Homo sapiens: one gene and its partner. The protein of the gene in region 1 purifies or fractionates together with the protein of each later gene. This does not show direct contact. Each region holds a gene or a part of one and is shown on either strand. Other genes may lie near its edges.

Region 1 (3,500 bases):
ATGGCCAGAAGGATCTACTCTTCAAAGACTCTACCTCGGAGCTTGTGCCCATCGCCACACAGACCTATGAGGCGTGGCTGGGCCATGAGTACCTGCACGCCATGAAGGGTCTGCTCTGTGACCCCAACCGTAAGTCCACCTGTCCCCACTGCTGCCAGCTCCAGCCCAGCTCAACCTCGGGCATGGCGAGGCTCTCTGGGAAAGTGGCCGGGGGAAGACGCTCACCAGGGAGGCCTCTGCGGGAACCTGTCATTTCCATTCCTCTGCCCCTGGGGCTTTGGGGAGGAGGCATCTCTTCCACTGTATGGCCTGTTGTACCTCGGAAGCCCCACCTGGCCGCAGCGGGGGAGGATGCAGACCATCAGAATCTGTCTTGGGAAGGGTCTCCTCGCCCCCCCATCCACGGCCATGGCATCCTGTCAGCTCTTCTACAGCCTCTCGCTCCTACTCCCCGCCTCTACCCCATGGCTACAGCCCTGGCGCAGGTGCCATCTTTCGCCTGGACTATTGCAGTAGTCTACAAGTGAGCTTCTTGCCTTTAGCCCCCTGGCCCCATGTATCTTCCACCTCCAGCCAGGGAAGTGGGTACCACACACTGAGTTACATGCACGCCAGCCATGGTCTTCCTCAGGCCTCACAGTTGCCCCTTTTCTGTGTGAGGAAGTGGGATCCGATGGTTAAATAACTTATCCCAGCCACACACCTGACAGGAGAAAGGCCCAGAATTTCCCTTGGGTCCGACTCCATGCTCTTCCATGGCAGTACTGGCCTGGCAGTGACCGCTTGCTTGCCCCACCCCAGGGCTGCCCCCCTACCTGCGCTGGTGTGTGCTCTCCACTCCCGAGATCCAGAAGTGTGGAGACATGGCCGTGGCCTTCCGCCGGCAGCGGCTCAAGCCAGAGATCCAGTGCGTGTCAGCCAAGTCCCCCCAACACTGCATGGAGCGGATCCAGGTGGGAGTCACGCAGGTGCAGCGTGGGCCAGGTGGGCGGGTGGTGGCAGTGCCTGGGCAGTTCTTACTACCCACACCCCCTGCTGCCTGGGGAAGAGGAGAGTGTCTACTGCAACAAGCCCACAGAGACGGGTGGGGAGGAGCGACCGCAGGGGCCAGCACCCACCCCAGGGGACAGAGACAGGCGGGGAGGAGCGACCGCAGGGGCCAGCACCCACCCCAGGGGACAGGCAGATAGGGGTGAGTCCCCTGGAGAGCCTGGGAGCTCCTCACTAAGTGGGGGTGCCAGGAGCAGAAGAAGCGCTGGCCCAGCTGGGCACTGACGCCCTGTAGCCTGGGGCAAGCCCCTTCCCCTTTCTGAATCTCAGCCTTCCCTTGTGCAATAGAGAGTGGGCGTGGATCATTGTTCGACTTTTTTTTTCTTTTTTCCTGATTTTTCTAAATAGACAAATAATAATTGTGCATATTCATGAGATACATACTGATGTTTTGATACATAGAATACATGGTGATCAGAGCAGGATAATAATTAACATACCATCATCTCAAACATTGCTCATTTCTCCGTGTGGAGAACATGCAATATCGTCCTACCTGTTTGAAACTATGTATTATTGTTAACTCTAGTCATCCTACAGTCTATAGAACACTGGAGCTTATTCCTCCTATCTCTCCTGGCTGGGTGCATTGGCTCACACCTATAATCCCAGCACTTTGGGAGGCCAAGGTGGGTGGATCACTTGAGGTTAGGAGTTCAAGACCAGCCTGGCCAACATGGTGAAACTCTGTTTCTACTAAAAGTACAAAAAAATTAGCCGAGCATGGTGGCACACAGTTGTAATCCCAACTACTTGGGAGGCTGAGGCAGGAGAATCGCTTGGACCCGGGAGGTGGAGGTTGCAGGGAGCCGAGATCACACCATTGCACTCCAGCCTGGGCGACAAGAGAGAGACTGTCTCAAAAAAAAAAAAAAAAAAAAAAACTCTCCCTATTCCTCCCTTCCCCTACCCTTCCCAGTCTGCAGCATCCTCTGTTCTACTTTTTACTTCTGTGAGATCAACTTTTTTTAGCTTCCACATATGAGTGGAACATATGGTGTTTAACTTGCTGTGCCTGGCTTATTTCACATAACACGGTGTCCCCCAGTTCCGTCCGTGTTGCTGCCAGTGACAGGATTTCATTCTTTTTTATGGCTAAATAGTATTCCACGGTGCATGCCAATGACATTTTCTCTATCCATCCTCTGTTGTTGGACACCTGGGTTGATTCCACATCCTGGCTATTGTGGCCAGTGCTGCGATAAACATGGGGTGCGGGCATCCCTTCCACAGGCTGATTGCCTTTCCTTTGGACAGATTCCCAGTGGTGGGATTACTGGACCATATGGTATTCAATAGTTCGATTTGTAGTTTGTGGAGGGACTTCCGTACTGTTTTCCATAGCGGCTGTCCGGGTTTACATCCCCAGCAACGGTGTGTAAGAGTTTCCTTTATTCTGCATCCTCACTAGCATTTGTTATTTTTTATCTTTTTGATAACAGCCACCCTAACTGGGGTGAGCTGATACCTCACTGTGGCTTTGATTTGCATTTCCCTGATGATCAGTGATGGCTGCTGGCATTTTGTATGTCTTCTTTTGAGAAACGTCTGTTCTGATCATTTGCCCGTTTTTAAGTTGGATGGTTTTCTGCTGTTGAGATGTTTCCGTTGCATGTGTATTCTGGATATTAATCCCCTGTTGGATGAGTAGTTTGCAAATATTTTCTCTCATTCCATAGGCTGTCTTCATTTCACTCTGTTCGTTGTTTTCTCTGCTGTGCAGAAACTTGTTTGTTTGATACAATTCCCTTTGCTTATTATTGCTTTTGTTGCCTATGCTTTCGAGGTCTTTTCATAAAATCTTTTCTCAGACCAATGTCCTGAAGCGTTTTGCCTATATTCTCTTCAGCAATTTTATTGTCTTGGGCCCTGCATTTAGGCCTCTCATCCATTTTGAGTTGGTCCCTGTGCTGGGTGAGGGGTAGTTTAGGGCCCCGTTCATTCTGCACTTGGACATTCAGCTTCTTCCCAGCAGCGTCCACTGAAGAAGAGATCACTCTTTTCCCAAAGAGGTTCTTGAAACCTTTGTCAAAAATCAGCTGGCTGTAAAACTGCGGGTTAATTTCTGGGTTCTCTATTCTGGATCATTGGTCTATATGTCCGTTTCTATGCCTCTATCTTTGTTCTTTTTGCTTAGGATTGCTTTGGCTATTCAGGGTCCCTTGTGGTTCCATACAAAGTTTAGGATTGTTCTTTCTAATTCTGTAAAGAATGTCATTGGAATTTTCATAGGGAAGTTCAGCATTGCTGACAGCACCGAGCACTCAGAATACATTTTGCATTGATCACAATCTAGTGAACGGAAACTTTTCTTTCAGATAGAAATTTAAAAATGTATGTCCTTTATATACAGAGATATGACACAAATGGTACCCACTATTTTCTAATGTATTCTATTCTAATCCTTTTTTTCCTGACACTTGTCATGACCCACTCGATTTGGCCCCCAT
Region 2 (3,500 bases), on another chromosome or scaffold:
TGTCATCATATAAAACTTAGAAACCACATATGCACACCACAGAGGAGACCTGCTCATCATCCACCACTGAGAATGAACCGCCCTTCTGTTTCAGTTTTCTCCAGGAGAATGCTGTTCAGATGCAGCTGGCAGTGCTACCTCTCGTCAGCAGACATGCTGCACTGAAACTGTAGATGCTGCTTATGATCCAAGATTTAGCTTTTCTTTCATTAGCAAAAAGCAGAGTATTGGAAGAGGTTGTCTGAGCCAGATGAACTTGAGGAGTTTTAGGAAGGGTCGGAAATGTCTGCGAAGATGCAAGGGAACCCACCTTTCTCTGTCCAAATCTTCCCAAAACATCAGACTTTGCCTCTTTGTTGGTCTTGCCTTGGGTATTTATTATATAGAGACTAAACAGAATTTGGAAACCACTGGGATGTTTAGCTATCCCTGCTTTGAATGTTGATTTATTTTATACCACTTAAAATTATTATATAAGCTTCAAGATTGCAAAGGGCAGTCTTAGTTATTTCAGTAGGAGTTTGAAACCTGATTGCAGCTGCAGGTCCCACACAACTGAATTCGGTTTCTTGTGCACAGCACTGTTCTCTGGAGGTGCCTGGAGGTCTGAAGGTGTGCCCTTTTATAGACAGGAATTCCACCATGATGGGTAGAGCTTGTTTTTTAAAAAGGCTTGGGACTAGATACGATTGCCCAAGAAGACAGTGTAGACAGCGAGGAGGGCTGAGCATGAATGGGATGAGCCTCCAGCACAGAAAGGGCAGGCAGGAAGGCAGTAAAGAAACAAGCAGGGCACAAACCAGGAGAGTATGGCATGCCATGATGGAGACTGAACAGAAGCAAAAACTACAGGCAACTGTAGTTTTGTTCCCTGTTGAAGGAGAGACACTCTATTAGAGAAGACCTGGAATTCAGTTCAGTTTCCTTAGCAAAGGACAAAATGGGGAGAGAAGACAGGGAAACAGTAAGCAGCCACGTGAGATTCTGGGGAAGACCTGTGTCTTCTGAGCAAAGTAGCCCCTCCAGCCACAGGATAGACAGTGACTTCTGTCTTGCATGAGTGAAACCACTGGATCTGGCTCTGCCCGCCCCTCCACTTTCTTGCTTCCTTAGCCTGTGAACAAAGTGAAGGACAGGTAAGAGCATATTGCTTTTCTGCTGAGAACAATCTAATACCTTACAGCTGCATTTTCCCACACTGCTTTCAGAACATTGAATTGCTGGGTGTCCTTAAGAAAGGGTTGGGAAATTACGTCACAGTGTCTCTCTCGTGAAGAATCACTCTGGGTACATTTATTTCATATAGTGTATGTGTTATTTAGTTCATTAAAGATGCGTAAGGCTGGGCACAGTGGCTCACGCCTGTAGTCCCAGCACTTTGAGAGGCTGAGGTGGGCAGATTACTTGAGCCCAGGAGTTTGAGACCAACCTGAGCAACATGGCAAAACCCCGTCACTACAAAAAATACAAAACTTAGCTGAGTGTGGTAGCACATGTCTGTGGTCCCAGCTACCAGGGAGGCTGAGGTGGGAGGATTGCTTGAGCTCAGGAGGCAGAGGTTGCAGTGAGATGATGCCACTGCACTCCAGCCTGGGCAACAGAGCGAGACTGTGTCTCTCAAAAAAAAAAAAAAAAGAAAAGAAAAGAAACCATCCTGATTAACCTTGTCTAATCCAGCACTCATCTTTTTTGAGCTTGGGCCCGTTTTTTTTTTCCATCCTGAGGAACAGTGTTTGCCTCTTACCTGTTGGGGAAATGCTCTCTTAGAGTCTACAAAGCTCTGACATGTATATCATGTCTCTATAGCCCTCACCGTGATCCTGTGAGAAGAGCAAGGCAGATGTTACCTCTCTTAGGGATGGAAAACTGAGGTGCCGATGTTGACCTGCTCAAGGTCACCCCGCTAAGGACTTGAAATTGTGTCCTCTGAGCTCCTGCCCAGTCTCCTTTCCATCAGACCACAGTTGGGGGTCTGGAATATTTTATAAGGGTCAGTTCTAGAGAGAAGATTAATCAGGAGCAGTGAAAGGAAAGAACTGCTTGTGAGAGCCTGTGGTGAATTTCTGCAATCACATTGTAAATATTTGTCTGTTCCCGGTTTCAACATGACCCAGAATGTTCTAGTTTGACGTTTGGCTGGACAGGGTCTTACATAGCAGGAGTGCTCAGGTACATGTTTGTTGAACATATGACAAATGGATGATTCTTACAAAATCCCATCCTATACCTATTACTGTTTCAATTCCAGTTCTACACATTCATACTACATGCAGAACCAGGGGCCCATGCACCTCCTTCTGTGCACTGGTCAATGAAAGTATTTATTGGAAAGCCAAAGTCCACTGCATATCTGATTTGACTGTGTCCTTGCACTATAATAATGTGCTTGGTGTTCATTCAGATGTCTGAGCCATTATTATATCTTAAACTCAATAGACTTCTACATTTATTGACTGCCACCTTTGTCCTGGCAAACTTGGCAGATCCTGGTTAATGCTCCTAATTGACTATTGCCTGTCAACAGGTTAACAGAGAGTCCCTGAGGGAGGCCAACTGTGGATCTGCAGGCTGGCTGCAAGACAACAGAAACCATTTTAAGCTTCAGTTCTAACAAGCTGCTAAGGAGTGAAGTGGGGGAAAGGAGTGGACTGAACAGCATTGGATGGTTTCCACACCCCATAAAAGCGTGTGCAAGTACATTTGTGTACCTGGTTCTCCTTTGCTAATGGTTTTAGGCTTAATTCTCTAACATCAAAAGGAAGTCCTTACTGCAAACAGTGTCTTCCTACTGAAAGAAAGCTCCACTCTAAGCCAAGTCTTCTGAAAGAGTTGCCTCTGGCCATGGTACAGAAGCTAGACCACCAGGGACTAGCAAACCAGGGCCAAGACTGGTGCCACCTTGATTTTATACTAATCTTTAACACTGGAAAAACTTGAGTACCCCTGAATATGGTAAGTCCATCTGTGCTTTTTTTTTTTTTTTGAGACGGAGTCTCACTCTGTCGCCCAGGCTGGAGTGCAGTGGCGCAATCTTAACTCATTGCAACCTCGCCTCCCCAGTTCAAGCAATTCTCCTGCCTCAGCCTCCCGAGTAGCTGGGACTACAGGCGCCCACCACCATGCCCAGCTAATTTTTGTATTTTAGTAGAGATGGGGTTTCACCATGTTGGCCAGGATGGTCTTGATCTCTTGACCTCGTGATCTGCCCACCTCGGCCTCCCAAAGTGCTGGGATTACAGGTGTGAGCCACCGTGCCCTGCCCCATCTGTGCTTTTGCTCACAGTTTGGAGAAAAATTGTTAGGGGATTATATCTCTACCTGAGTAGTTAGCTGAGGAGATTCCCACCCACCCTTAGGGGTTTTTGGAAATCTCTGAGGGTGATCTTGGCTGTCCAGTGAGAGCATGATGCTGGCATTGAATGGGTGTCAGGGAACCAGTTCAGTCCTTCCTGCCCAATGAAGGATTGTCCTACCCCCAAATGCCAGTCATGATCCCATGA

Evidence for each region.
Region 2: the proteins of MELTF (region 1) and SLC25A15 purify together in Homo sapiens (affinity purification with mass spectrometry; one large-scale study listed by BioGRID and IntAct). This does not show direct contact.

What each region holds. Positions count from the first base shown.
Region 1 is NC_000003.12:197,012,818-197,016,317, reverse strand, and holds part of MELTF (melanotransferrin isoform 1 preproprotein), read left to right. Parts: coding exon 1-129; intron 130-801; coding exon 802-953; intron 954-3,500. UniProt on the Homo sapiens protein: Involved in iron cellular uptake. Seems to be internalized and then recycled back to the cell membrane. Binds a single atom of iron per subunit. Could also bind zinc.
Region 2 is NC_000013.11:40,799,611-40,803,110, forward strand, and holds part of SLC25A15 (mitochondrial ornithine transporter 1), read left to right. Parts: exon of another isoform or gene 1-1,114; intron 1,115-3,500.